Homo sapiens: one gene and its partners. The protein of the gene in region 3 purifies or fractionates together with the protein of the main gene of each other region. This does not show direct contact. Each region holds a gene or a part of one and is shown on either strand. Other genes may lie near its edges. The genes, in order: RIC3, RNF146, ZMYM1, POLD3, ABLIM1 and ARHGEF26.

Region 1 (5,242 bases), on a different chromosome or scaffold from region 3:
AATATCCATATTTTCCTTTGGGAACTCCTCTCAACTCCAGAGTGGATTCATCAGTATATTCTTTCTACCCACAGCACCACAAGTTAACTTAATTCAAGCCATTAACGTGAACGGATATGTTTGCTGGAACTTCTGGGAAAGAATCTTGGGAGTGAGGCTGGAAGGTGAGAGTGATGGAGGACTTAAAAGAAAAGAGGCCTGGAGCTGTGCCCAGCAAAGTGCTGTAATCCCAGCACGTTAGGAGGCTGAGGTGGGACAATGACTTGAGGCCAGGAGTTCCAGGCCAGCTCTACACACACACGTATATAAATGAGACACTCCCACTTTCTCCGGGCAATGGAATGTGAGGAGGTAATGTCCGAAACTGTTGCTATAAATGAGACACTCACTTTCTCCGGGCAATGGAATGTGAGGAGGTAATGTCCGAAACTGTTGCTATAAATGAGACACTCACTTTCTCCGGGCAATGGAATGTGAGGAGGTAATGTCCGAAACTGTTGCTATAAATGAGACACTCACTTTCTCCGGGCAATGGAATGTGAGGAGGTAATGTCCGAAACTGTTGCAACCATTGCTACCACCCTGAGAGGGCAGCCAGAGCACAGAACCAACTTGAGAACGAACCCAGAGTGAAAAGGACACAGAAAATAAGAGCTAGAGCCCCAGTGTGACAACTGTGAGTCTCTGGTTCAAACCATACTGCAAGACATTTCTAACACAGGGTCTTTTCATTTACACAAGTCAATAAATTCCCTGTCTTAGTCAAGCTGACTTTTCTGTCACTTGTCACAAGCACCCTAACTGGTGAACCCAATGACAATGACTTGGTGATGCTCATGATGTCTCAACTGGATGACTACAACAATCTTCTCCCTGAAGAAATCCTCACAACGCAGTGTCTACACTGCTGCCAGGGTGTCCTTTCTAAAACCAGGTTAAATGTTTCTCTTCTCCTTACACACTCAATGATGCCTCATCTGCCTTTAGAATAAAACCCAATCTCCTTAAGAATGACAGAAAAAAACCTTCACAATTTGGCCCGTGCCAACTTCTCTGGTGTCTTCTCTCACAACTCTGAGGATACTTCAAGGCTCCATGCTTCTTCTTTTTTTTTTTTTTTTTTTTTTTTTTCTTTTTTTGAGACAGAGTCTCACTCTGTCGCCCAGGCTGGAATGCAGTGGTGGGATCTCAGCTCACTGCAACCTCCAACTCCCAGGTTCAAGCAATTCTCCTGCTTCAGCCTCCCAAGTAGCTGGAATTACAGGCGTGCACCATCAGACTGGGCTAATTTTTATATTTTTAGTAGAGACGGGGTTTCTCCGTGTTGGCCAGGCTGGTCTCGAACTCCTGGCCTCAAGCAATCTGCCTGCCTTGGGCTCCCCAAGTGCTGGGATTATAGACATGAGCCACCGTGCCTGGCCCTAAGCCTCTGTGTTTCTTTGCTCAGTATTTCTTCTACCTAGAATGCCCTTCTTTTTCATCTGGATTATTTAAACACACACACACACACACACACACACACACACATACACACACACACACACCCCCCAAAACACTTTAAGAACTGCCTCCTCAATTTAGCCAAGGAAGGTAAAGCTGGGTTAACATCTAAATTTCAATTAATGTAATATGCCACATCAGTAAAGGACAAAACTCACATAATCATCTCATAATCATCTCAACAGACATAGAAAAAAAGTATTTGATAAAATTCAATACCCCTTCATAATGAAAAACACTCAGCAAACTAAGAATACAAGGGAACTTCCTCAACCTGAAAACAGGCATCTACGAAATGCCCCCAGATAACATTACATATGCTAGTAAAGCATACTTCTTAAGATCAAGGACAAGAAAGGATGTTTGTTCTTACCACTTCTATTCAACATTGCACTAAAGGTTCCAGCTAGGGCAGTTAGGCCAAAAAAAGTAAAAATAAAAATAAAAGGCATTCAGATTAAAAAAAAAAGTAAAACTATCTCTATATGCAGACAAGTTCAGCGAGGTGACAAGATACAGTATCAATATACAAAAACTAATTGTCTATACACTAAGGAACAATCTGAAAACAAAATTTATAACAACATCAAAAAGAATAAAATACTTATGAATATATTTAACAAAATAAGACTTTCACACTAAAAACTACAATCTCCTTTAAAATAAATTAAAGACCTAGATAAATAAAAAAGAAATCCTCTGTTCATAGATTGAAAGATTTAATATTGGTAAGATGGCAGTACTCTCCAAATTGCTTCAGTTCACTCTATCAAAATCCCAACTGGCATTTTTTTTTTTTTTTTTGGCAGAAACCAAAGTGATGATCCAAAATTCCTATGGAAATGCTAGGTCACAGGACCCAAAATAGCAAAACAATCTTGAAAAAGAAGAACAAAGTTTGAGGACACATTTCACGATTTCATAACTTAGAAAACTACAATAATTAAGACAGCATGGTACTGGCTAAGGATAAGTATACAGATTAATGTAATATAATTGAGAGTCCAGAAACAAACTCTTACATTTAGAGTCAACTGATTTGACATGGGTGCCAGAACAATTTAATGAGAAAAGAAGAGTCTTTTCAACAAATGGTGCTGGGGCAACTATATATCCACATGAAGTTGGACTCCTACCTTACCCATATACACAAATTAATTCAAAGGGATCAAAGACTTAACTGCAGGAGCAAAAACTATAAAACTTGAAAACATAGGCATAAATCTTCATGACCTTGGATTTGGCAATTTGTCTCAGATATGACACCAAAAGCAGGAGAAACAAAAGAAAAAAGTAGATAAATTGGACTTTGTCAGAGAAAATGTAAAACTTTTCTTATTCAAAGGGCACCATCAAGAACGTGAAGGCAACCACTGAATGGAAGAAAATATTTGCAAATCATATATCTGATAATAGATTTGTACCTAGAATATACAAAGAACTCTTACAACTCAACAATAAAGACAAGACGCCAAGTGTGGTGGCTTACACCTGTAATACCAGTGCTTCAGGAGGCCAAGGTGGGAGGATCACTTGAGGCCAGAAGTTCAAGACCAGCCTGGGAAATATAGTGAGAGCCTCATTTCTGCCAAAAAATTTAAAAATTAGCCAGCTATGGTGGCACACACCTGTAGTCCTAGTTACCTGGGAGGGTAAGGTGGGAGAATCACTTGAGCCCAGGAGTTTGGGGCTACAGTGAGCAATGATGGCACCACTGTATTCCAGCCTGTGCACCAGAGTGAGACCCTGTCTCTCTCAAAAAAAAAAAAAAAAAAAAAAAAAAGACAAGTAATCTGACTTTTAAAGAGGGTTAAAAGGACCTGAATAGACATTTCTCCAAAACAAGATATACAAATAGACAAAGAGTGAATAAACACACAAAAAATGCTCAATGTCATTAGTCATCAGGGAAATGCAAATAAAATCACAATGAGATACCATTTCATTCCTACTAGGATGGCTATCATCAAGAAGACAGATAACAAACAAGTATTGACAAGAAACCAGAAGCCCTCTTACACTGCTGGTGGTCATGTAAAATGGTACAGCTGCTTTGGAAAATGGTCTGGCAGTTCCTCAAAAGGTTAAACATGTAATAACCATACAACCTAGAAATTCCACGCTTAGTTCCAGCCACACTGGAATGCTCACATTTTCCAAATGTATACACTCAAGAGAAATGAAAACATTAAGTCTACACAAAAATTTGTACACAGATATCAGTAGCAACATTATTCATAATAGCTAAAAGGCAAAAATTCAATGTCCATCAATTGATTAATGAATAAATGAAATGTGGTATATCCACACAATGAAATATTATTCAGCCATAAAAAAAGTACTGCTACATGCTACAACATGGATGAACCTTGAAAACATTATGCTAGTTAAAAGACGTCAGTCACAAAAGATCAGATATTATATGATTTCATTTATACCAAATGTCCAGAACAGGCAAATCTATAGAGACATAAAGTAGATGAGTGGTTGCCTAGGGCTGGAGGTGGGCTGGGGGATTTGTGGAGTAATAGCTAAAAAGTACAGGGTTTCTTTGGGGGCTGAAGAAATATTCTAAAATTGGTTGTAGTGATGGTTGTACAACTCTGAATATGCTGAAACCCAATAAATTGTACACTTTAAGTGGGTGAATTGTATGATATATAAATTAGATCTCAAGAAAGCTGTTATCAAAAAAAAAAAAGACTTCCCTCCTCTATGTTCTATGAAACCTGTTTTTTGGGGTTTTTTTTTTGTTTTGTTTTGTTTTTTTTTTTGGCAGAGTCTCACTGTGTTGCCCAGGCTGCAGTGCAGTTACACAATCACACCTCACTGTAGCCTTGACCTCCAAACTTCAAACGATCCTCCCACCTCAGCCTACAGAGTAGCTGGGGCTACAGGTGCACACCACCATGCCCAGCTAATTGAAAAAAAACAAACTTATTTTGTAGAGATGGGGGTCTTGTTATGTGGCCCAAGCTGGTCTCGAACTCCCAGGCTCAAGCAATCCTTCCACCACAGCCTTTCAAAATGCTGGGATTACAGGCATGAGCTGTCACACCTGGTTTATGAAACCCTTCTTAAGTCCCAATAACACTGACCATTGCATACATGTCTCCATTGTTCCCTGCGCAGACTTGAGTAACTGTGACTGACACTCTTGCATTTATCTGCTAACATGTCTGTTTTGCATTTATCTGTTGACATGTCTACTTTCCTTTACTAAACTGTGGCCGCCTCAAAGCATGGAGTTCGCTCATTTTTTCTTGGAATACATAGTGTCTATACACTATGTGCACAGTATGTGATATGGTACATCATAAATATTTGTTAAAAGACTATCTTAAAGGCTTTCATGTGGAAAGGGAACTGTGCTTGTTTCATGCACATCAATGGGCAAAAATGGAAGACATAACAACATGTATTTTTAAGAATTTTCAAATACTCAGGGTTATTCCTTTCTTCAAAGCAGGGATTTCTGGGTTCTGAGAATTCTCTGAATTGATACTGAAATTCTGAGTACAATAAGAGTATGTACCTTTTTCTAGAGAGAACATACAGTTTTAGGCTGAGTGCAGTTGCTCAAGCCTGTAATCCCAGCACTTTGGAAGGCTGAGGCAGAAGGATCACTTGAACCCACGAGTTCGACACCAGCCTGGACAATACAATGAGACCCCCATCTCAACCAAAAACAAAAAAAATTTTTTTTAATTAGCCAGGCATGGTGGCATGTGCCTGTAGTCCC
Region 2 (5,242 bases), on a different chromosome or scaffold from region 3:
TCACATATGGAAGAAACCTGGTCCATTTTGCCTTTTAAATATATCAGTCAGTCCTAGCTACTTGGGAGGCTGAGATGGGAGGATCGCTTGAGCCAAGCAGTTTGAGGTTTTAGTGAGCTATGATCATGCCACAGCATTCTAGCCTGGGAAACAGACTGTAGAGTGAGTGTATGTGTGTGTGTGTGAGAGAGTGAGAGAGAGAGAATCTCACTCAAAGGCTTAATAAATGAGGGTGATACTGACACAAGATAATCAGGCTGAACAATAGTCCAGGTGAGAGTTATGTAGGTTTAAACTAGGGCACTAGCAATGGGTAGAGAGTACAGGATAGATTCCAAAGGGATTAGGAATAAAAGTTGACAGAATTTATGGTGTGGTTGGTTGGGGTGGGGGAGCAGGGGGCTGTGTGGTGAGAGAAAGGACTTTCTCTTTTTCTCCATGAACACAAAGTAGTTAAGACATGAAACCTGAGATGTCATATTGTAAGAATTATGCAGAAATGGGGGTTTGTAAAATGTGTGTATATGAGATAAAGATATGAGGGGGCCAAGGGTTCTGTTAAGAAGTAAAAAAGATTGGGTTCCAGAATGGGCAGGAAAGGAAATGAGATCAGGAACTGGATAAAGGAAAGGAGATGGTCAAGAGATGGTAGGTCCCCATGAAATTGAAGAGCAGGTGTGGGAATGAGTAGGCTGGAAGAACCAGAGCTTGTGATCTGAGAGTCGGATTAAGATTTCAGAGAGGCAGCAGTTTAGGTGACAACTAGCTTTAAATGTGATTATAATATTTGGTTGCTGGAGAGTAGATTAATTTCTTCAAATTTAGGATTTAAGGAACTGAAAATTGAGGATGGTGTTTCTCAGATTGTATTTGAAGGACTAAAGCATGAGTACCACCTGGGGTGAGATTCCTAGGTTTAAACCTATGTCTACTGGCCTAGAATTTCTAAGGAAAGGGGCTGAGAATATGTATTTCTAACAAGCAATTTCAGTGATTCTGATGAATAGAAGTTGGGACAAGTTTAAGAACCTGTGCAATAGGTGTTGGATGGTTCATTTTCAAGGCTATTTAAATAGGCTGATAGTCATGTCAGGAGTTAGGATGAAGAGGATGATCAGTAGTGAAAAGATGACATTAATCCCTTACAGGTGGTGAGAGAGCAGTTTTAGGGGATTATGGGGTATGTTAAAGTCAGTGTGATAGAGACTTGAAAGAAAAAGTAATGATGTTGGAGCAGTAAATTGTCTCCTCCTGTCCTATATATAGGGAGTGTATGAAAATGTGCAGTTTTCTGTTTGGCGTAGGCTGCAGCAAGGAAATGAACATAGCCTTCTTTGATGCCATTGAAGTTGTAGGCTCCTTGAAGTTGGTGAAAGGGTTGAGAGGAAAGTCAAAATAGTGGAGTCCATTTCATCTAAAGTCAGAGTAAAACAAAAAGGTTACTTAGAAACCTTGTTTAGTCAGTATATTAGGCAGTGTTCTCTAGGGGGACAGAACTAATAGAATATATATATGAGTTTATTAAGTATTAGCTTACACGATCACAAAGTCCCACAACAGGCTGTCTGCAAGGAGCAAGGAGAGCTAGTCCGAGTCCCAAAACTGAAGAACTTGGAGTCTGATGTTCGAGGGCAGGAAGCATCCAGTACAGGAGAAAGATGTAGGCTGGGAGGCTAGGCCCATCTTTCTTTTTCACATTTTTCTGCCCGCTTTATATTCACTGGCAGCTGATTAGATTGTGCCCACCAGATTAAGGGTGAGTCTGCCTTGCCCAGCCCACTGACTCAAATGTTAATCTCTTGGCAACACCCTCACAGACACACCCAGGATCAATACTTTGTATCCTTCACTCCAATCAAGTTGACACTCGGTATTAACCATCACAGTCAGTTACTTTTGAAAGTTCTCTGATTTTAAAACAAATTGTTTGTTCTGTTAAACATTTGGTAGGATAAGTCAGCTTGTATTTAGGGGCCACATAATGGCATTAAGAATATGTTTCTTTAAACACTAGAATCTTAAGATACCGTAGGGAGATAGATGCCCATAGTATGAGAGCCACATGGAAATAAAAGAAGATTGAAGTCTCCTCTATCTTGTGTTTACTGTGAGATCTATCATTTCTTTAGTTATCATGTGTTCTTGATTATTCTGTGTAATATGATGTGCGTCCTGTAGTGGACATGGTGAGGTGGAGATGGAAATACTAAATGAGAAGAAAGAAGATTAATGACTGAGATGGTACAGGTTTTTAAGAGTACAATTCCATGTAGTTAATTTCATTTACAATGTTATGCAACTATCACCATTATAGATTTTCCACAACTTTTTTTTAGCATTACAAACAGAAACTCTGTACCCATTAGGCAATAACTCTCCACTTTCCTTCCTTCACTCTCTGGTAACTTCTGATACCTTCTGCTTCTATGAATTTGCCTATTCTTGATATTTCATGTAAGTGGAATCATACTTTTCTGTATGTGGCTTATTAGTATGTTTTCAAGGTTCATCTATATTGTAGCACATATTTCTTTTTATTACTGAATAATGTACTGTTGTATTTATAGACCACATTTTGTTTATCCATTCATCTGTTGGTAGATACTTGAATTGTGTCCACCTTTTGCCTAATATTTCCGCAGTGAATATTGGCATACAAGTGTCTGAGAACCTCTTCAATTCTATTGCTATATCCCTGGGAGTGGCATTGCTGTGTTAGCTTTTTGAGGAAGCAACAAATTATTATTCACAGCAGCTACACCCTTTTACCTTCCTACCAGCAGTTTTCAAAGGTCCTATTTTTCTACATCCTCACCAACACTTATTATTTTTCCCTTTAAAAAAGTTGTAGCCTCCTTATAGATGTATCATTGTGATTTTGATTTACATTTCCCTAATTACTAATAATGTTAAGGATCTTTTTGTGTGTTTATTGGCCATTTGTGTATCTTCTTTAAGTTCTTTACTCATTTTTTGCTCACTTTTTAATTGGTTTGTCTTTGTTGTTGAGCTGCAGTTCTTTACATATTCTGGATATTAAACCTTTATCAGATACATGATTTGCCAAGATACTCTCCCATTCTGCAGTTTGTCTTTTTATTTTCTTAACAGTGTCTTTTGATGCACAAAAATTTTAAACTTATATAAAGCCCAATTTATTTCCTATGTTTCTCATGCTTTTGATGTCATATCTAGGAATCCATTGCAAATCTAAGGCCATGAAGATTTGCTCCTGTGTTTTCTATTAAGAGTTTTATGGTTTTATTTCTTATATTTAGGTTATTGATTCATTCTGAGTTAACTTTTATATATAGTATACGGTAGAGGTCCAGCTTAATTATTTTGCATGTGGAAATCCAGTTGTCCCAACAACATTAGTTAGAGGTGCCTGTTTTCCCCCATTGAGTAGACTTGACACCCTTTTGGAAAATCAGTTGGCTATTGATGTATGAGTTTATTTCTGGACTCTCAATTCTATATCATTGGTGTATTTATCTGTCCTATGCCAGCACCAAACTGTCTTGTTACCTTAGCTTTGTAGTAAGTTTTGACATTGGATTTTTCAAGATTGTTTGGGTTACTTAGGGTCCTTTGCAATTCCATATGAATTTGAGGATTGCTTTTCCATTTCTGCAAAAAAGGTTGTTGGAATTGTGATAGGAATTATGTTGAATCTGTAGATCACTTTGGGTAGTATTGTCATTTTAATATGTTAAGTCTTCCAATCCATACATCACTTGTCTATTTACTTAGCTCTTCTTTAATTTCTTTCAGTAATGCTTTATAGTTTTCTGTGTACAAGTCCTTCACCTCCTGGGTTAAGTTGATTCCTGGCTATTTTATTCCCTTAGTTACTTTATGAATGAACTGTTTTCTTGATTTCTTTTTTGGATTGTTGTCTCCTGGTGTATCAGAACACAACTGATTTTTTTGTGTGTCAAACTTGTAACCTGCAACTTTGCTGAATTTGTTTATTAGCTTTCTTGGGGATTCTATGAGATCTTCTATCTAGAGAGAATAGACATAGTTTTACTTCCTCCTTACCCGTCTGTATGCCTTTATCTCTTTTCCCTAATTTGCTCTGCTAGAACTTACAGTCATGTTGAATAGCAGTGGTAAAAGCATGCATCTTGTCTTTAATTTTTCCCACTTTTAAGATAAAGTTTTCCACTGAATTTTTTGAAAGGATTATACATAATTAACTGATTCTCTTGATCTTAATTACTCTTTTTTTCTTTTGCAGCACAAAGAATGAACCAGCAGTGGAAGAGAAAATACTGTAAGCTGGCTGACTGCTGGTGAAGAAAATGCTTTATTTTTGTGGCAGGCATCTGTGGGATCTGTAATAGAAATGTAAGTGTAGCATCATGGTTTTTTTCAGTGCTGCAGTAAATTAAATGGATTGGTTTAACGTGTGGTAAATTGAGTATCTGTCATATGTAGTTTTAATTATATTAAATGAGCATTTTCTTTTGACTTATAGGTGCTTTATTAACAATTTATTTACATTAAGTTATCGTTAATGTAGATTTCCAAGTCTCCTCAAAAGGAAAAGTCTCTATAAGAAAAACTGAAGACACAGGAGTTTGCTCAAAGAATGCTGAAATAGATCTCCAGGTCCTCTGGGTTCTACCTTCTTTTTACATAATAATTTTCTTAAATAACTAAGCTAGGCAAGTAGTACTAGCTTTTGTAAATAAGACAGACTACTAGGTTATAAAAACTCTAGTTACTAAAAACTTGTTTCACTAAATTAAAGGAATTTCTACATAATTGATTTTTTTAATGTAATAATACATCACTGCATTTTATTCATATCACTTCACTCTGATCCCCAGTTTTACTAGTTGTGCTTTCATCATTTATCTTTGCATGATATGCTTTAAAGTGTTACACACTACCTTGGATTTGTCCATATTTAACTTCACCGTATTGATGAAACATTTTTCACTATGAATATATTTCTGTTTTCTAAATTCATATAAGCCCTATGCAACTTGATGTCATTCATGAAAAATGTAGTGAATATTTTATTGACTTTTAATTACAGTGTTTTTCTTATTAGAGCAAGAGTGACCTTGGTAGATGCTATTTCACATTTTCCCAGTTTGACATAAAACTCTTGCTTTCTACTCTTCCAGTATGATACTGGTTACATGTAATGATATGTATTAACAATAATTAATTTATTATTAAAAGTATGACCATATTATTTTTATTCAGTATTGAAAATTTGATAATT
Region 3 (6,005 bases):
ACAGAGTTTTACTCTTGCTGCCCAGGCTGGAGTGCAATGGCACAATCTCAGGTCACTGCAACCTCCACCTCCCGGGTTCAAGTGATTCTCCTGCCTCAGCCTCCTGAGTAGCTAGGATTACAGGCATGCACTACCACTCCTGGCTAATTTTTTGTATTATTAGTAGAGACGGGGTTTCACCATGTTGGCCAGGCTGGTCTGGAACTCCTGACCCCAGGTGATCCACCCGCCTCAGCCTTCCAAAGTGCTGGGATTACAGGGGTGAGCCACCACGCCCGGCCACTAAAGGAAATTCTTTAAGCTAAAGTAAAATAGTAGATGGGAATTTAGCATAAAAGTTGGAAAGCAGGCCAGGCGTGGTGGCTCACGCCTGTAATCCCAACACTTTAGGAGGCTGAGGCAGGCGGATCACTTGAGGTCAGGAGTTCGTGACCAGCCTGGCCAACATGGTGAAACCCCATCTCTACCAAAAATACAAAAATTAGCTGGGTATGGTGGTGCACGCCTGTAATCCCAGCTACTCGGGAAGCTGAGGCAGGAGAACTGCATGAACCCAGGAGGTGGAGGTTGCAGTGAGCCCAGATCATGCCACTGCACTCCAGCCTGGGTGACAGCGCATGACTCCATTTAAAAAAAAAAAAAAGTTGGAAAGGAAGAAAACTTTTTATTTGTAGACATGACTGCATATAGAAAACTCTAAGGAACCTCCCCCAACTCACCCCCCGCAAAAGAAACTATTAGAATAAGTGAATTCAGCAGAATTATAGGATAATACAAGATCCGCATTTTAGAATTTTTCTTATCACTTATCTTCAACATTGTAGTAGAAGTTCTAGTTAGATCAATAAAGCAAGAAAAAATAAAAGACAAACTTTGAAAAGGCAGTTAAAATTGTTATTATTCATGGATGACATGATTCTATACAAAGAAAATTCAAAAGAATCTCCAAGTTATTAAGCTTAGCAAGACATTCGAAAATAAATTTTGGCCAGGTGCAGTGGCTCACGCCTGTCATCCTAGCAATTTGGGAGGCAGAGATGGGTGAATTACCTGAGGTCAGGAGTTCAAGACCAGCCTAACATGGTGAAACCCGTATCTACTAAAAATACAAAAGAATTAGCTGGGCATGGTGGTGGGCACCTGTAATCCCAGCTACTCAGGAGGCTGAAACAGGAGAATCACTTGAACCTGGGTGTCAGAGGCTACAGTGAGCCGAGATTGTGCCACTGCATTCCAGCCTGGGTGACACAGTGCGACTCCGTCTCAAACAAACAAACAAAAAATCAATTTTATTTCTTTATACTAGAACAGAAAAATATAAAAATAACCATTTTCTGCAGCATCATAAATATCAAATATAGGAATAAATCTAATGAAAGCTATTAAAGAACTCTACAGTGAAAACAAAACATTGCTGAGAGAAATTAAGGAAGATCTAAATAAATGCTCATTGATGGAAAGAGTCAATATTAATTTTTCTCCTAATTAAGCTGTAGATGAAAATCCCAGCAGGGGTTTTTGTGGAATTTGTAAGGTAATTCTAATGTATATACAATGTGCATACAGAGCCTAGCATAACCAAGACAATATCAAAAAAAAAAAATGTTGGAAGGGCTTATAAAGCTACAGTAAATTAAGATAGTGTGGTATGGACACAAGCAAAAACAAAACAGAGTCTGGAAGCAGATATACTCCTATCCCTTATTTCTTCGCATTATACCACTTCTTTATACATTACACTTTGCTAAGATTTATTTTATTCGGCCGGGCACGGTGGCTCCTGTCTGCAATCCCAGCACTTTGAGAGGGTGGATCAGCTGAGGTCGGAGTTCTAGACCAGCCTGGCCAACATGGTGAAACCCTGTCTCTACTAAACAAAAATTAGCCAGGTGTGGTGTAATCCCAGCTACTTGGGAGGCTGAGGCAGGAGAATCACTTGAACTGGAGGTGGAGGTTGCAGTGAGCTGAGATCGCGCTACTGCACTCCAGTCTGGGAGACAAGAGTGAAATGCTGTCTCAAAAAAAAAAAATTATTTTATTCAACTGAGTTCTGCAAGGTCTTTTACTAGCCTGATGGGAAGGCTGGAGGCAGAAGGCTATATGTTTTTCAAACCAAACTAAAATGTCCATGGTTAATTCTGCAGGCAATGAAGAGCCATCATTTCCGAAGTGCCTTGGTACCGGGTTACACTGATGAGTAGGATGTCCCAACCAGTAAGTATATACAAGGTACTGAGAAGAAATGAAAAAAGAAGACGGTCAGTCTTCTGGGAGGTGAAATTTGAGCTGGGTTTTAAAGTGTCTACCAACCAATGATGGCGGATATTCCTGGTATAGAGACAGCATGTACAAAACCACAAATAGCCGGGCACAGTGGCTCAAGCCTGTAATCCCAGCACTTTGAGAGGCCCAAGCAGGTGGATTGCTTCGATTCAGGAGTTCGAGACCAGCCTAGGCAACATGAAGATAACCTGTCTCTACAAAAAATACAAAAATTAGCTGGGCGTAGTGGGGAGCACCTGTTGTTCCAGCTACTCTGGAACCTGAGGTGGGAGGATCGCTTAAGCTCGGAAGGCTGAGGCTGCTTGTGAGCCGTGATCGTGTCACTGCACTCAGCCTGGGCCAAAGAGCGAGACCCAGTCTCCAAAAAAAAAAAAAAAAAAAGAAGCACAAATATATGGGAACTAGAAGGAGTGGGACTGTTGTTGCAGATAAAGTACAAGTGCAAGAGTGCTAGTAGAAGGAACTGGAAAGTTTGAAAAGTAGACATGGGTCATGTCAGGAAGGTCCCTGATACCAAATACCTTAAAATTAATCTTGTAAATCAGCAGCGTTCAAACTGTGCTTTTGGGGTTCAGCAAACATTTCATTTTTTTTTTTGAGACGGGGTCTCGCTCTGGAGTGCAGTGGCACGATCTCGACTAAATGCAACCTCTGCCTCCCGGTTCAAGCGATTCTCCTGCCTCAGCCTCCTGAGTAGCTGAGATTACAGGCGCCTGCCACCAAGCCCAGCTAATTTTTGTACTTTTAGTAGAGACGGGGTTTTGCCATGTTGGCCAGGCTGGTCTCGAACTTCTGACCTCAAGAGATCCGCCCGCCTGGGCCTCCCAAAGTGTCGGGATTACAGGCTTGAGGCACCACGCCCGGCCAGGAGTCAAACTTTTGAAAAATCACTGCTCAATGAAGGAGAGATACAGGTGTGATGGGGCTTCTGAAACGGAGGCTGCGGAGCGAGACTAAAGTCTGAAGGCCCAGTTACTACACAGGAGCAGGAGGCGGCGAGAATCGCTGGAAGCGGGGAGCACTAACCCCCCCAGTCTATGAGGGCAAGGTTAAAGGAGGCGGCAAACACAATCCACGTCAGGGCCTGGCCCGGAGTTCCCGACCCCCATCTGGCGGAATCCGCACTCAAAGCTCCGTCTCTAAAACCCCGACCCGGCGCGTCATCCTCCCTCCGACCGACAGCAGAAACCCTGCCCCTTTCGAGTAAGGCGCAGGAGTAAAGACCGAAACCAGAGCCGCATGAGGAGGCTTACTAATTTCTCTCAGGGACGCCCCGCCCAACGCTTCTGAAACAATCTTCGAAGCGAAACGGCCCCGCCGACCCCGCCCCTCTCCCGTCGTGCTCTGCGGTTGAGCATGCGCAGGGCCGCTGGCTCAGGGTGGTCCCAGCTCCCTGAATTGGGAAGAGCGACTTTGGGATAGAAGAAGTGGGAGAGGGGGAGGGGAAGAGTCCTTACGGCCCGCATAGGATCTTACCCTTGAAGTCGTCGCTGGCTGGCAGCCAAAGTAGGACCCTTGACTCAGAGCTCAGGCAGGGCAGTTAGATTTCCTGGATTTGAGAGATGGCTTTACTACTTATTAGCTGTGTGCTAGTAAGCGATTTGACAACTTCTATAAATCTCCATTTCTTCGACCTTGAAATGGGGATAATTGTAGTGGCTGCATCGTAGGTTTGTAAACATTAGGCAGGCTTCTGCAGAAGCTGGACTCAAAAAAAAAAAATATGACAGGCAATGTTAGCAAAGTGCCAGTTGCAGAGTAAATTCCTAGTAAAAGGAAATTATCCTCAGAGGTAGGGAGGGAGTTCAGACTTCTTTCATTAGTACGTTAAAATTAAAATGACCCCAGGCTGGGTGTGGTGGGTCACACCTATAATTCCAGCACTTTGGGAGGCCGAGGCGGGTGGACTGCTTGAGTTCAGGAATTCAAGACCATCCTGACCAACATGGTGAAACCCCGTCTCTATTAAAAATACAGAAATTAGCCGGGCATGGAGGCGGGCGCCTGTAATCCCAGCTACTTGGGAGTCTGAGGCAGGAGAATCGCTTGAAGCCAGGAGGCAGAGGTTGCAGTGAGCTGAGATTGTACCACTGCACTTCAGCCTGAGCGACAGAGAGAGACTGCGTCTCAAAAAAAAAAAAAAAAAAAAAAAAAAAAATTAAAATAACCCCAAACTGCATGTCAAAAATAATGGCATATTTTAAATGTTTTTTGACAATACTTTCAACACCTAAAAAAGTATAGGACGAACTAACTGTGCTATTCCTAAAGGCATAAGAGGATTCTAAAATATATATATAAGGTTGAATGATGAACTTATTATAATCATATTTGACAATTACTTTTAAAGGAGATATTCTCAAAAATCTAAATTTGAGGCCCTTGTGAAGGTGAGGTCCAGACCAAAAGGGCCTCCTAATCCTTGCTGCTATGGTCCTTAAATATCCTTTGGAATTAGCCTCAAATCTAATATAAACCCTTTGGTAATTTGAAATATTATACGAGTAACTGAAGTTAATTTCTCCAACATTTATTATTACCTTCTAATATTCATAATAATCTGTTTAGACTGTTAGGATTAGAAAGGACCTTACTGAAATGATCTCTCCTCTAATGCTCCCTTCCTACCAAAGGAAAAGCTGAAGGCAAGAGGATAAAGGTAATTTGCCCCAAGTTACACAGCAACTCAGTGACTGGGATTAGATTGGAACCCAGAAATGAGTCCTGGTTCAGTGGGCATCCAAAGGCAAGTGATGTCATTGTAAATGCCCCGTGGGTTCACCTTGCCCGCTACCTAAACACAGTCCATTTATCAAGACGGGGAATTGCAATAGAGAAAGAGTAATTCACGCAGAGCCAGCTGTGCGGGAGACTGAAATTTTATTATTATTTAAATCAGTCTCCTCGAGCATTTGGGAATCAGAGTTTTTAAGGACAACTGGTGGGTGGGGGGAAGCCAGTGAGCCAGAAGCGCTGATTGGTTAGGTAGGAGATGAAATAATGGGAAGTTGAAGCTGTCTGTCCTCATGCGCTGAGTTAGTTCCCTGGTGGGGGCCACAAGATCAGATGAGCCTGTTTATCTATCTGGGTGGTACCAGCTGATCCATCAAGTGCAGGGTCTGCAAAATATCTCAAGCACTGGTCTCAGGAGCAGTTTAGGGAGGGTCAGAATCTTGGCCTCCAGCTGCATGACTCCTAAACCATAATTTCTAATCTTGTGGCTAATTTGTTAATCTTATAAAGGCAGTCTAGTCCCCAGGCAAGGAGGAGGTTTGTTTTGGGAAAGGGCTGTTATTGTCTTTGTTTTAAACTATAAACTAAATTCCTCCCAAAGTTAGTTTAGCCTATGCCCAGGAAGGAACAAGGACAGTTTAAAGTTAGAACCAAGATGGAGTCCATTAGGTTAGATCTCCTTCATGGTCTCAGTCATAATCTTGCAATGGTGGTTTCATCGTCATTACTAACTTCCTTGGGAGTTGAGTTGAAAAAATGGTAGGATTCATGATATCATAAAAAATTGTAAGGATGTGTGATAATTTTGAGATGTGATATTCCAACCACCCCCAGTGATAGATCTGAAAATTTGGCCCAATATTTCAAGCAGTAGATGTAGGTCACAAGTTTCATGCGTCTTTCTTGCCCTGAAGTCTCAATAGTTTATACTGGCTGAAAGATTAAGTCCTAAGGAATAGGAGGAGAGCTCTGGGAGATAGGAAGCTTGA
Region 4 (5,242 bases), on a different chromosome or scaffold from region 3:
GAAACTTCTCCCAACTGCGGTCATGGATCACTTAATGACAGGGACATATTTTGAGAAATGCATTGTTAGGTGACTTCACTGTGTGAACATCACAGAGTATACTCACACAAACCTAGATGGTATAGTCTATGCTCCTAGGCTACAAACCTGTACATCATTGTTACTGTACTCAATACTGTAGGCAACTGTAACACAACGGTATTTGTGTATTTAAACATCTAAAAAGAGAAAAGATACAGTAAAAATACTGTATAAAAAAGATTAAAAATGGTACACATGTATAGGGCACTTACCACGAATGGGGCTTTCAGTACTGAAAGTTGCTCTGGCTGAGTCAGTGAGTGAGCGGTGAGTGAAATGTGAAGGCCCTAGGATGTTACTGTACACTACTGTAGACTTTATCAACACTGGATACTCAGGCAACACTAAATTTATTTTAAAATGTTTTTCTTTCTTCAATAATAAACAGCTTACTTTAACTGTATTTTCAATTTTATAACTTTTTGGCTCTTTTGTAATAACACAGCTTAAAACACAAAAAATTGTACAGCTGTACAAAAATATTTTCTTCTTTATATCCCTATTCTATAGGCCTTTTTCTATTTTAAAAATTTTTTATTTACTTTTTAAACTTTTTTTGTTGAAAGCTAAGACCCAAACACACATTAGCCTCGGCCTACACAGGGTCAGGATCATCAATGATCATTGTCTTCCACCTCCACATTTTGTCCCACTGGAAGGTCTTCTTCAGGGGCAGTAACACACATGAAGCTGTCATCTCTTATGATAACAATGCCTTCTTTTGAAATATCTCCTAAGGGCTGCCTGAGGCTATTTTACAGTCAACTTTTTTTATAAGTAGAAAGACTACCCTCTAAAATGATAAAAAGTATAGTGCAGTAATTATAGTAGCATAGTCATTTTTATTATCAAGTATTATGTATATATAACTATTAATATATATGATATACTTTCACATGACTGGCAGCACAGTAGGTATATTTATACCAGCATCATCACAAACACGTGAGGAATGTGTTGCGCTACCATGTCATGACAGCTATGATGTCACTAGGCAATGGGAATTTTTCAGCTCCATTATAATCTTACGAGACCACTGTCATATATGCAGCCCATTGTTGACCCAAACATCGTTATGCAGCGCATGAGTAATCTTATGAAGTTAGCACAATTTTGACACAGCAACTTGATAAAGACATTACCAGAAAAGAATGTAACTGACCTGTAGACCTCATAAACACAGGCAACAAATGCTTAGTGTAATATTAACAAATCTAATCCAGCAATATATAAAAAAGGATAATACATCATAACCAAGTGGAGTTTATCCCAAGAACACAAGGTTGGCCTAACATTTTAAAATCAGTGTAATTCACCACATTAATAAAAACACCATCTGAGCATCCAATCAATTCAAAAAAGCATCTGTCCAAAATCAATACCCACTCATGATAAAACCTCTTAGCAGACTTGGAACAAAAAACAACTTCCTCAATCTGGTTAACGGCATCTATTAAAAATCTACATTTATCATCACATTTAGTAGTGAAATACTGAATGCACTGCTGGCAATAAGTATCAACAGTGAGTGACGTACCCATGGTTGTGGACATTTTAATCCATACAAGTCATATGTTCCTAGGTGGTGAGGCCCACTGGACAGAGCTTTAACCCTCTAAAATTTCACCATTTTGTTGATGTTTTCAACGAGAGTAGTCCCAAACTTGCCACAAAAGTCGTCTTTCTAGGCCTATCAGTGTTGACAGTGTCCTTTAGAATTTCTTTCAGCAGACTAATTCTACCAACTATGAGGTAGTGTCTCCAATTCCTGGATCTAGTTTTAATAGCTTTATGTGCTTTTTATTTTCTTTTCTAATTACATTTTACCACTTGAAAAATAAACTCATTGATATAAAAAGAAAACAAAGAAGTTTTTCTCTTAAATTTGACTGGAAACAGTAACTGTTCATTTGGCAATTTGAAGTGAAACACACACACACACACACACACACACACACACACAACTAGGCACACTTATGCCATGTCCACAAATTTAAAACAAAAATCAACAATCAATTTAGATCAATACGGCCAAAAACACGACTTTGGTCCTTAAATCATCCAAACTGGCTGATCCTACGGTCCTACTCCACTAGATAAGCTACTGGGCTTCTCTTTCCATTTTGGTTGTATAGTTGTATCCCTTAGGCATTAAGTAGGATTTAGTACTTAACTGAAAACTGCCTGCTGTCAATAAGCCCAAAGAGACCTTCTCACCCCCAGTAAAGACTCTTCCCCAATAAGCAACAAAATTTTCCTACCTTTTTTTTTCCTTCTGCAGCACCTTAACAGGCTCTGCTTTTTTGCTGGATTTTTTCAGGCCTGCAGGAGTTGCCAGCTTTGGTTCCGTGACAGACACTGTAGGCTGCTCCACTATTTTTTCTTCTTTCACTGCTTGTTCTGAGTCCAAATTGACTTTAAATTTATCTATAAATAAAGTATAGCAGACGACATATGACCCCATCATGCAATATTAATACATCATTCTTTTGACAGTCTACCATGTGCCAGGTAATATGTTAGGAGCAGGGGCAAAAAGGAGCTCATGGACTATTCAGAAACATTCCTCCTTTCCAACTACCACTCTAACTGTAACTTTTCATTTCTGCCTCCTGCTAATCCCTCATTGTATCACAGCCCCCAGGCTAAATGATAGTAAAAGCAAGGCTTAGAAAAAACACATACAACTTTATGAGGCATCATCCTTCTCATTTTCAGATGAGGAAAATCAAGAATCAGAAGGATTACAAGATGTTTCCCAACAATACACAGTTTACAAATGGTGACAACGATTTGCAGCAAGACCTTTGCTTTCTATATATTCTATCTTTTAATGCCTGGATACCCTTAATATCTCACTACTACCTTAATGATAAAATTTAAAGACTATTTTGGAGTCAAAGAAGTTTGGTTCAAACCCCGCTTCACTCTGGGCAAGTTATTTTATCTAAGTCAGTCTTTTCTAAACCTGAGATAATATTTACAAGATTATCATAAGGATTAAAAGAGATCAGTATTGGTTAAATGATTTATCCAGGTAACACTGACAGAAAAGAGTAGGGATTTGAACCAAAGTCAGTTTAACTCCTCAAAGTCCTTAACCCTTTCCCTACACCAAGCTGAAGAATGACTACAGTGCAGCAGGGAGAACTAAGAAATGCAAACAGGCCTAGCCATCTGAGGAACTATAGAAGCATGTCATCTAGCCTTCACGCTGTACTTAGTGATAGCTTTTCACAAGTAAAGGCACAAAATACTATTAGAAAGCTGTCATTAGCTGGAGGTGCTTCAATAAGTAGTTTTGGTTATATGTTGTATAATAGCTTAAACCATCTACAGTGTAGAAAAAAATTGGTATCATAGTCTGGGCTATTATGCATAGCTTAGTACAATAATTTATAAATAATGTGTATTATTTGAAGGGTAGTTGATGGACCAAAGTGTAAAATGCAATCTATTTATACTTTTCTTTTTCCTGAAGACTTGAATGGAAAATGCGAATGGTGGAATCCACCTTCCCAACGATGGCATACTCTTGCATTTTCAACTGTTGTTCTCAAGTATCAGTGCCTCTCAAATATCCCAAATTGTATAGAAGAGTAAACATGCATCTCCAGGGGTCTAGGGGTCAACAGCCAATCCAAAAAATACAGTTCACTGGAGTCACATGTGTAGCTTTAAAATTTATGCAAATTTTGCAATCTATCACATAAATTATATTGTTTTAATAGCAATTGTTTTAAAAATTGCATCATTAGGAGAAAAAAACCTCCAAATACTTCCTACCTACCTATGGATTAAGGAAAGAGAGGCTATTGCATTGAGTTTACCAATTACAGAAAACTGATCTGAATTAAAATGCCACTGATCAAACATTAGATTCAGCATCCAGAGTTTCTTCTGTCTTGGTTTCACAGAATTTTGAGAACTCCAACTTAAACATATATGCAGCTACCAATAGCCAATTAACTGGTAAAGAGGTAGTTTAATGCAACATTGTAAGGCAATTATTAAGGAAAATTTAATGACTTTTTTTGTTACCTGAATGATCAAGTCACCTATCTTCTAGCTGATTAAAAGCATTTCCTTTTTATACTCAAGAAAACACGAAACCTTTTCAAGCAAATAAAGATAACCAATTATGACCTTTAAATTTTGTCATCAATGCTGAATTTTATTACATATAAAGCGTTACTTTTAAAAATTGAGATATAATTCACATACAATAAAATTCATCACTTTACATTCAGCGTTTTAGTTGTATATCCACCATCACTGTCCAATTTTAGAGCATTTTCATCACCCCAGAAAGAAACCCTGAACCCATTAGCATTCCTCCTCAACCCCAGTCCAGCCCCTGACAACCTTTATTTACTTATTTATTTATTTATATATTTTTTGAGACAGAGTCTTTCTCTGTCGCCCAGGCTGGAGCGCGGTGGCGTGATCTCGGCTCACTGCAAGCTCCGCCTCCTGGGTTCACGCCATTCTCCTGCCTCAGCCTCCTGAGTAGCTGGGACTACAGGCGCCCACCAACAGGCCCAGCTAATTTTTTGTATTTTTTTAGGAGAGATGGGGTTTCACCGTGTTAGCCAGGATGGTCTCGATCTCCTGACCTCGTGATCCGCCCGCCTCGGCCTCCCAAAGTGCTGGGATTACAGGCGTGAACCACCACACCCGGCCCCTACTTTCTGTCTCTATAGACCTGCCTATTCTGGACGTTTCATATAAATGAAATAATATATGATCTTTTCTATCTGGCTTCTTTCACTTAATATTTCAAGGTTCATCCATGTCATATCACATATCCATCTGTACTTCATTACTTTTTATAGCTGAATAACATTTCATTGTCTGGATATACCACCTTTGTTTATCCATTCATCAGATGACAGACTTTTGGATTGTTTCAATTTTTGGCTATTATGAAGAATGCTGCTATGAACATCTTGTACAAGTTTTTGTGTGGACATACAGTTTTAATTCCCTTGTGTAGATATCTAGGAGAGGAACTGCTGGGTAAACTCTATGTTTAACTTTTAGAAGTACTGCCACATCATTTTCCAAAGTGAGTACACATCATTTTACATTCCCTACAGCAGAGCACAAGGGTTCAATTTCTCCACATCCTTGCCAACACTTGTTACTGTCCAGTATTAAG
Region 5 (5,242 bases), on a different chromosome or scaffold from region 3:
TTCCCGCTACCCTTCATAGATGCCTCACTGGCATTGATCTTGGATTCGGTGGTTTACAAATCTTTAGAGTTCCTTGGAATTCTGAGATTCTGCTCTATAAGAATGTATAACATTGTACCTGCATAGATGAAGAAATGAGGACTTCAGAAAGATTAAACACCATGTCCGGAGATACAGAGGTATTAAGTTGCAGAACCAGAATTCAAGCCCAGGGCTGCTCCCTCTCAAGCCCAGCAGCTTATCAGGCTTCCATATCATTGACAGATACCCTGTATCAGGCCTCCCAGGAGGCCAGCTGTAGATGGCTGGTAGATCTTGATAACATACAGGGTTGGCTTCCAGTTCAGTTACTGCTGCCTTATCAACTGGGGCATGGGCTAATGTATTCAGATATCCCTGATTTACATCCTTGCTCAGCTGTTTAGAAGCTTAGTAACTGTTGGCAGGATATTTTTCTTAGCCCCTATTTCTCCTTCTGTAATATGGAACTAATAATCATAGTGTTATTAGGGTTATATTGAAGATTCAAAGAAATAAAGCATGCTGAACACTTAGCTCCATGCCAGAGCTATAGGAAGCACAGCCAGCTTCAGCCCCCACTCAACCGCGTGGACTTGACTTTCCCTTCCCTCCTCAGTCATATCACTGTCCACCCACTCCTTGCAAATATGATGGCATATTTTTGAACATTTGAGCCCAATATGATTTGAATTTTTTTGGTATTTCTATCCTGTGAGGTAGAAGATACTGCCAATTTCATTAAAGGATTGGACCTTCTGATTTCCTAACAATTGGTTTTTTACTTTTTTCTTACTCAGCTTCACATATTCCATCATCTAAAACTGCATCTCTCCCTGGCTATGGAAGAAATGGGCTTCACCGGGTAAGATTTCTCCCCGATTCATTGTTTCTGCCTTTACTCCCACCTCGGCCCTGGTTGAAGTATTGACACATTGCCTGAATACGTCTGACTCTTGATCTCAGTGTTGGAACATAATGAAAATTTTAACCTCCCTGGTTGCCTAGTAAATTAATTTGAGTTACAGGCAAAATAAAATGTTTCTATTGAGAGAAGAAGAAATTAACTTTAGATAAAAGAATGGCTTGTGTATGATTATGGGAAAACTAAATTGCAAAACTGTATGGCAAATATTTTTTACAATGAAACAAAAAGTAATTACTTGAACCATTATCTTTGCTGTAAAAAGATATAAGAATGTGTGTTATAACCATCCTCCTCACAAAAGATGGAACAAATACAATTATGTAACTATGTAGGACAATGCATTTTTATTTATCAGCAAGAGATCCCTGCTTACCAAGAGCCTGCTGAGTGGTGGCATTAGTACACTAAAAAAGACAAAGAGATGGCATAGCAGTAGAAGAATCATAGGGAAAAAAAAAATGAAGGTCTGACATTTAGCTTGGGAAGAATTCCTAGGATTTTGTAAACTCTTTCTTCCTTTTCACCTGACTCCAAAACGATCACTATGGAGATTTCCTAATAATTGTTTTTCCTCATTTCAGCCTGTTTCTACCGACTTCGCTCAGTATAACAGCTATGGGGATGTCAGCGGGGGAGTGCGAGGTGAGGCTCCCATGGCCAGGCTGAGCATGGCCACGTCTTCCCTCGAGGCTGAGGTTCATGAGAGTCAAGTATACTGGCTGTGTTCATGCTGTATTGTATCCTTAGAGTAGGATCACATCTGTCTTCTGTGAGCTAATAGGGCAATTATTTACAAAATTTCAAAGAATATCTAATGAAATCAAACTGTAAGAAGTGAGTTTGTGAGAATTTATTCATTGCTCATACTATGTGCTGAGCACTCTATCAGATACCTAGAGGCCAGGCATGGTGGCTCATGCCTGCAATCCCAACACTTTGGGAGGCTGAGGCGGAAGGATTACTTGAAGCCAGGAGTTCTAGACTAGGTTGGGCAACAAAGTGGGCCTGTCTCTACCAACAACAACAAAAACAACAACAACAAATTATAATAATTAGCTGGTGGCACATGCCTGTAGTCCCAGCTACTTGGGAGGCTGAGGCAGGAGAATTGCTTAAGCCCAGGAGTTCAAGGCTGCAGTGAGCTATGTTCATGCCACTGCACTCCAGCCTGGGTGACGGAGCAAGACTGTCTCTTAAAAAAAAAAAAAGTAACTGGAGGTACAACAATAAGTGAGACATGGCCCCTGCCCTCAAAATGCATATGGCAGAAAGAAGGTCTGTGTGATGAACATTGGGATCAGAGATGCAGAGAAGGAAGCAGTAAGTACCTTTAGGTTGTCAGCGAAAGCTTCCAGGGGAAAATGTTTTAACTGTTAACTAACACTGGACCAGGCATTTCTTGGCTTCAGGGAGGCTGATGGGATAACATGTGCAGAGTCTGGGAGCAGAAAAAGAACATGGTTTATAGGGCGAATATGTTGGGAATTTCAATATAATATAGTCTGTGAATGGTTCCTTGCTTTTCCATGGTCTTTCCCTTATGATATTTTCTTTTCCTTTCCTTTTCAGATTACCAGGTATGGAACACTTTGTCTTTCTTGAATTGGCCACACCGATAGAACAGCCATGTTCCAACCCAGACTGCTGGCTCCAAGGCAACAGTTTCTGTTGAGAAGATGCTTGTTGTGGTTGATCTCTCTAGTCATTACTCTATAGCCGTGAAGAGCAGACATGCCTGGTGCCTGGGTCAAGCTGTCCCTGCAGGCCTTGGGGACACTGCATGAACCAGGCCAGGTGTAGGGGGTCTCTCTTGCTTTGGCCTTGGAGAGTCCTCTCTGGGGTGGAAGTGGACCAGCATCAAGGGTCTGCTCATATACAGTTTTTCTTCTTTTAATTATAATCTCTCAGTACTTTAGGCCACCCTTTTCCTGCGCGTTCTCAAATGAAAAGACACTGATGTCTTAGCCAATAGGAGAGAGCAGTTTGCCCTCATGACATTCCTTTCTCACTAGAACCTCAATCTTGTTAAAAAAAGAAAGAAAGAAATGTGATGGAGAATAAGAAAAGAAGAAAAATGCATAGAAAATCATGATTAAAGATAAGAAACTAACAATAATAGACTTGGGCATCTTTTAAATGTACTATATGCTTTCATTCATGGAGCCTAATTCAGGAATTTGTCCATAACCATCAAGCCAAGATCTCTCCCCAACTTGATTGCAAAAGAGCTGTATTCCTGTTCCTATACAGCAAGGATCTCATTTTGAAAAATACATGGTCATTTAGATGACACAAATAAAATAGTGGTTAGGATTGGAGACCCAACAGGGAATTGGGAGCCCAAGAGTACTCCCTTCAGTTTCCTAGACTATTTCATGCCTCACCTGGAACTGGCATTTCTGTTGCAGACACTCCCAGATGGCCACATGCCTGCAATGAGAATGGACCGAGGAGTGTCTATGCCCAACATGTTGGAACCAAAGGCAAGTGCAGCTGTTCTTTTTCCTCTCATATGGGAATGGCGTAACCCTAAACAGATTTGATGTTCTATCTTTTCATCATTCTCAAAGTGTTGTAGGCTGGTGTGTTCAGGTGAGCCATGTCATGAATATGCACCTTGCCATTCTGCTGTTTTGCCCACATCAGGTCAGCAGGTTAAACCCTTACTGGGCATGATGCTGTGTGTTTACAGTGAGGTGCCAGTCCCTCTCTGCCTATGACCAAGGTATTCCCTTGGCCTCTGCCATGTGCATTACAGAGCATATCCGGTGCTGAGTGGAGTGGCTGCAGACTCACCATGTAGGTGAGGCAACCCTGTTTCACCATTGAAAGCCCTGCATTTCAAGAACCTCAGTCCTGGGTACACTGGGGTGACTGGCCACCCTAGCTCCAGAGCACCCTGTACCTTCAGAGTTGTCCAAGGGCTCATGCTCCCTGGTGACCATAACCAGGGCTTATTTCAATATGGCAGTTGCCAGAGCACTGCTTCTGGGCCTGCCTGGCCCCATAGATTCATGAGCTAGTCATGGGACAAGATTGTTAACCCCAGCACAAATGCACCCTGCCCTATAACAGCATCCTATAAAAGGTAACACATTGGCTGGGCACAGTGGCTTACGCCTGTAATCCAAGCACTTTGGAAGGCCAAGGCGGGTAGATGGCTTGAGTTCAGGAATTTAAGACCAGCCTGAGCAACATGGCAAAATCCCATCTCTACTAAAACTTAAAAAAAATTGCTTGGCATGACGACATGTGCCTATAGTCCCAGCTACTCGGGAGGGTAAGATAGGAGGGTCACCTGGGCCTGATAGGTTGAGGCTACAGTGAGCTGTGATCACACCACTGCATCCAGCCTGGGCAACAGAGCAAGCCCTGTCTACAAACAAAAAAAGAAAAACAAAAACAAAAAACACGTGCCTGTAATTTCCATTATCTTCTAATGTTTACCTTCATCCCAATACATAGTAAGTTAGTGTTCTGCCACTCAACAAAGCCCCCCTAAGGCTCAGTGCTACCTGAGACACTGGTGGAAAGTTGAGAATGTCTAAGATTCTGTCCCTGTCCCCTGGAAACTGGAGCTTCCACTGGCCTTGCAGAAGGAAGACCCATCACTCGAATTCTGTCATGACAGTCTCTTGGAAGCTCTATCTTGGGAGTACTAGCGTTTAGGTGGATTCTGCTTGTTAATAAAATGGACTGTGGTGTTCTAGAAGAGGTGTTTTCTTTCTTCTCAGATATTTCCATATGAAATGCTCATGGTGACCAACAGAGGGCGAAACAAAATCCTCAGAGAGGTGGACAGAACCAGGCTGGAGGTAAAACAAAACCGAAAAATCCAGTCCCAACTGCAGATCCCTATGCACTCCCCCAACTCTCCCCTAAGCAATGTTTTATTTCTTCAGTGAAAACAAAAAAAAATTATAAAGATCACCCTCATGTCATAGGTAGAACTAAGAAATAACTTTGGAGAAAAAAAATATCCAGGTTTTCACTTAGATCAGCATAAAAATGCCTGGTAATATCCAGAAGAATGACCCAGGAGGTGGGCATGGTGGCTCACGCCCATAATCCCAACACTTTAGGAGGCCGAGGTAGGCAGATCACTTGAGGTCAGGAGTTCAAGACCAGCCTGGCCAACACGGTGAAACCCTGTCTCTACTAAAAATACAAAAATTCACGGGGCATGGTGGCAGGTGCCTGTAGTCCCAGCTACTTGGGAGGCTGAGGCAGGAGAATCGCTTGAATCCAGGAGGTGGAGGTTGCAATGAGCCAAGATCACACCACTGTACTCCAGCT
Region 6 (3,500 bases), on a different chromosome or scaffold from region 3:
GGGTGGGACTCACTCAATTGAAAGTCTCAAAAAGCTGCTCCTTTTAGTGATAGCAACAAGGAGTGTCTTGTTCTATCCTCTGGAGTCCCTGTGAGGGGTGGCCATGTCTAAGAGATGCTATTAGCATCCAGGCAGCATGCCACAGAAGTGAAAGATTTCATCTGGACTTCTGGAAACTGGCTGTAGGGCAAAGCCACTGCTGATACTGGCCACTCAGTGCCAGAGACGGTGTCTGTGTACAGGAAGATCTGCCTCACTGGCTCCAAGTTGCTCTAAATTGCTCCAGAAGACAGCAGTATAGGCTATGTATAATTTGTTTCAGTATGGCATAGAGAGACACAAATGGATCATTTTAGATTTCTCTTGGTGAGCAACACTTCTATTCATGAGGTATTTTGTTTTCGATTGGCTTTGTACTTTGCAAATTCCACTTGAGCCTGTGTAAAAAATAGATCTTATTCCCAATAAAGACATCATAGCAAAGATACAAGTGTTTGCCTGGGAATTATTTTACATGAAGTTGTGCTTTGCTTATTTCTTACAGAACTATTGTAAAGCCCTTTGTCCTGTATTAGAGAGAGAGAGAGAGAGAGAGGTTTTAAAAGCAAGACAGGAGCCTTGGCTTCTATATAAATTGTGCATATTACTACTTGACACACCATCTTGATCAAGGCCCAGCCTCATCTTAATCTTTGAAAATGCCTGTCTTTCAAGATACCACAGTTTCCACCCTTCCTGCCTTCCATCATTATTTTGTAAACACCTGCTGCGTAACACCACCTCTTTGATTTCAGACTGCCTGGGTTAGGTGCTTAACATACCAGACTTGCTTTGTCCTCTGAAAAAAATAGAAATAATTTTGGTAATATTTTCTTTTCAAGATTGTTGTAAAAATTAGATTAGATGATACTTGCAATTGTTTAGTACCATACCTGACACATAGGTGCTTCAGAATATTATTTAGAACAAGGCCCAATTCCTGCCATTCTGGAGTTTATAGCCTGGTAAGAGAAGCAGATGAGTCAGTAAATGATTGGGCTCAATATGTGATGAGTTATATAATTCATTCATTAGCAGACATATACTGAGCCCCTGTTACGTGTTGGGCAATGTTGTAGAGATAATGCAGTGAACCAAATGGATAAGCTGCCTGCTTTTATGAGGCTTACTGTTGACCAGCAATATAATAGAATTGTGCAGAGGGGTGCCCTAGAAACAGGATTATCAGACTGGGATGGAGATGGAAGGATTGGTTTATGTATCAGAGGAGCCCCCACTGGAGGAAGTGAGCCTTGTGTTTTCAGCATTGAGTGGATATATGTTGAGCAAAAGAAGCCAAATACAAAAGCATACATACTAAAGGATTTCATTTGCAAAAAGTACAAAAGAAGCATGGTAATAGAAATTCCATGGTAATGGAAAACAAGAGCAGTCACCTTTGGACAGAGGTTATTGATTGGAAAGGGTCAGAATGGAAATGCCTGGCGCATCTGTGTCTTGGTAAGTAAACACAGAGCTGTACACGCTTATGATTAACTCAGTTTATGTTATGTATGTTAAGAAATTTTAATGGCAATAATGAGTGGGCTTATCTACGCAAAAACAGGGAAGGAATAGGAAAGGCTGGGGCAAGGGTGCTATGTTCCAATGCGGTAAGTCATCCTCTCTGCCTGGGTTGGAAGGATGCATATGGGGATGAAGGTGGGGTGACAGCGACAAGCATCTGTAGATTCAGGCTGCTATGAGAGAAGAGTTTTTTTCCCCAGGTGTTGGTCATGAAGGCATTTTTTCTTAAGAATGTAGAGTGGCACAGTAGAAACTGACTTTGGTTTGAATTGCTTGCCTCTGAACTTCTGTCTGATCTTAGCATCCTTCAGATGGGCTTTTGAGAGGATTACATGGAATAGTGGATGTTGAGTGCAGTGTCTGACATGTAGCATGTGTTTAATAAATACATAAGAGAGTTAAAAGTATGTGTGTGGCGGGGCAGTATTTAATTAATTGTAATTTTAATACTTGGTGCTCAAAATAAAAAACCAGGGTGACTGCATTATGTAGAGAAGTGCTTGCTTATCTGAAACTTTTGATCCTTTAGTTGAATAATTATTTTTATGTAATTATAGCTTAATATTATATTAAAAGTATTGGTCATTTTTCCTGTGCTCATTAAACCATTTTAAGCATTTGGGAACAGTGTAAAAGTGGCCAAAGAATTTCTATTTCAGTAAGACTCATATTTGGCAAAATTAGTTGTATGAGGGATGAGACAACTAAATATGTCAAGTTTCTCAAGTTTACGGAAAGGTTTGAGTGTGTGGGAAGGGAAGTGGGGAGGAAGCAGAGAAATTAGTAGGATTTTTAAAAAATGAAACTTAACTGCTTTTGAAATGTTAAACATCAAATTATGGGTATGCTAAATACCTTTTGGAGTTATAATGTGTTCGTGTAATCAGCTCCTTATTAACTTTTAAACTGTCATATGGGAAGTTCCTTTTAATCAATAATGAGCCAAGTTCATTCAGACTCTTTTGACAATGATGACTAGTCTCCTGCTTATTTTAGACTTTCCAGCTTATCACTTTTAAACTACTCTCACCCTGTTTTACCATACCTCTCTAGAGAATCTCTTGTTTTCTGGGAGTGCCTTTGCATTGGCTGCCTAGAAAACACTCCATTCTGTGTTTTTACACCTTGAGTCTCTCAGTTGGATCTGCCCTCTGTTTTAGGAGCGAGCGAGCCCGCTGGATAACTGCCCTGGGACACAGCAGCGGGAAGCCGCCTGCAGACCGAACCTGTAAGTTCTCTCAAGGGGAAGCCCACTTGGGAACATGGATGGGCTCTGCCCCCTGCTGGACGCCGGGTTACTAACGAGTTATATTGCCACAATACTTGCCTAAGTTTCCTCCAGGGCTTCCTTCTGCTTTACACCAAAAATGTATGATCCTTGCTTTGGAAGTCAGGGGGTCTGAATTCAAATCCAAGGTGCATTTCTTTGTTGTGTAAACGTGTCAAATCATTGCTTAGCATTGCAGAGCCTATTTAACCATCTGCAAGTCAGTTACACCATTATATACAACATGGGGTTATTGTGAAGATTAAGTTAAATAATCTATGTTAAAAGCCCTACTTGAACTGTAAAGCCCTTAAATTTTTAGCTATTATCAGTGGGCAACAGTTGATCATGTTTAAACCTTCTACATACTGACAGTCTGGATTTAAGCTGAAAAGTATTTTTAATCTAAAAGAAAATTACCTAAGAATTCTTTTTGACCTTCTAAGAAAGTGTGTTTCACTATTCTAGAGAATTAGAAACTGGCGCAGTGAAGGGGGGTGTTGTATGCCTATTAGCTTCCTAACTTTGATGCTGTGGTTTCTTAGATTATTACAGTTGCAAGGTCAAATCCAAAGAATTAGAACAAAACATTGTTATCCTGGAACACTCAAAAATTATAGCTTTAAGCTTAGATTAAAAGCCAAAATGACTGGTTTGAAAGTTCCCG

Evidence for each region.
Region 1: the proteins of ZMYM1 (region 3) and RIC3 purify together in Homo sapiens (co-immunoprecipitation; one large-scale study listed by IntAct). This does not show direct contact.
Region 2: the proteins of ZMYM1 (region 3) and RNF146 purify together in Homo sapiens (co-immunoprecipitation; one large-scale study listed by IntAct). This does not show direct contact.
Region 4: the proteins of ZMYM1 (region 3) and POLD3 purify together in Homo sapiens (tandem affinity purification; one large-scale study listed by IntAct). This does not show direct contact.
Region 5: the proteins of ZMYM1 (region 3) and ABLIM1 purify together in Homo sapiens (co-immunoprecipitation; one large-scale study listed by IntAct). This does not show direct contact.
Region 6: the proteins of ZMYM1 (region 3) and ARHGEF26 purify together in Homo sapiens (co-immunoprecipitation; one large-scale study listed by IntAct). This does not show direct contact.

What each region holds. Positions count from the first base shown.
Region 1 is NC_000011.10:8,161,525-8,166,766, forward strand, and holds part of RIC3 (protein RIC-3 isoform a precursor), read right to left. Parts: intron 1-5,242. UniProt on the Homo sapiens protein: Molecular chaperone which facilitates proper subunit assembly and surface trafficking of alpha-7 (CHRNA7) and alpha-8 (CHRNA8) nicotinic acetylcholine receptors.
Region 2 is NC_000006.12:127,275,988-127,281,229, forward strand, and holds part of RNF146 (E3 ubiquitin-protein ligase RNF146), read left to right. Parts: intron 1-4,243; 5' UTR 4,244-4,351; coding exon 4,352-4,353; intron 4,354-4,528; exon of another isoform or gene 4,529-5,242. UniProt on the Homo sapiens protein: E3 ubiquitin-protein ligase that specifically binds poly-ADP-ribosylated (PARsylated) proteins and mediates their ubiquitination and subsequent degradation. May regulate many important biological processes, such as cell survival and DNA damage response.
Region 3 is NC_000001.11:35,076,974-35,082,978, reverse strand, and holds the start of ZMYM1 (zinc finger MYM-type protein 1), read right to left. Parts: upstream 3,595-6,005; 5' UTR 3,537-3,594; intron 1-3,536.
Region 4 is NC_000011.10:74,622,674-74,627,915, reverse strand, and holds part of POLD3 (DNA polymerase delta subunit 3), read right to left. Parts: intron 2,509-5,242; coding exon 2,343-2,508; intron 1-2,342. UniProt on the Homo sapiens protein: Accessory component of both the DNA polymerase delta complex and the DNA polymerase zeta complex.
Region 5 is NC_000010.11:114,437,363-114,442,604, reverse strand, and holds part of ABLIM1 (actin-binding LIM protein 1), read left to right. Parts: intron 1-818; coding exon 819-883; intron 884-1,527; coding exon 1,528-1,588; intron 1,589-2,515; coding exon 2,516-2,523; intron 2,524-3,354; coding exon 3,355-3,429; intron 3,430-4,680; coding exon 4,681-4,761; intron 4,762-5,242. UniProt on the Homo sapiens protein: May act as scaffold protein. May play a role in the development of the retina. Has been suggested to play a role in axon guidance.
Region 6 is NC_000003.12:154,250,390-154,253,889, forward strand, and holds part of ARHGEF26 (rho guanine nucleotide exchange factor 26), read left to right. Parts: exon of another isoform or gene 1-838; intron 839-932; exon of another isoform or gene 933-2,726; coding exon 2,727-2,794; exon of another isoform or gene 2,795-3,500. UniProt on the Homo sapiens protein: Activates RhoG GTPase by promoting the exchange of GDP by GTP. Required for the formation of membrane ruffles during macropinocytosis. Required for the formation of cup-like structures during trans-endothelial migration of leukocytes.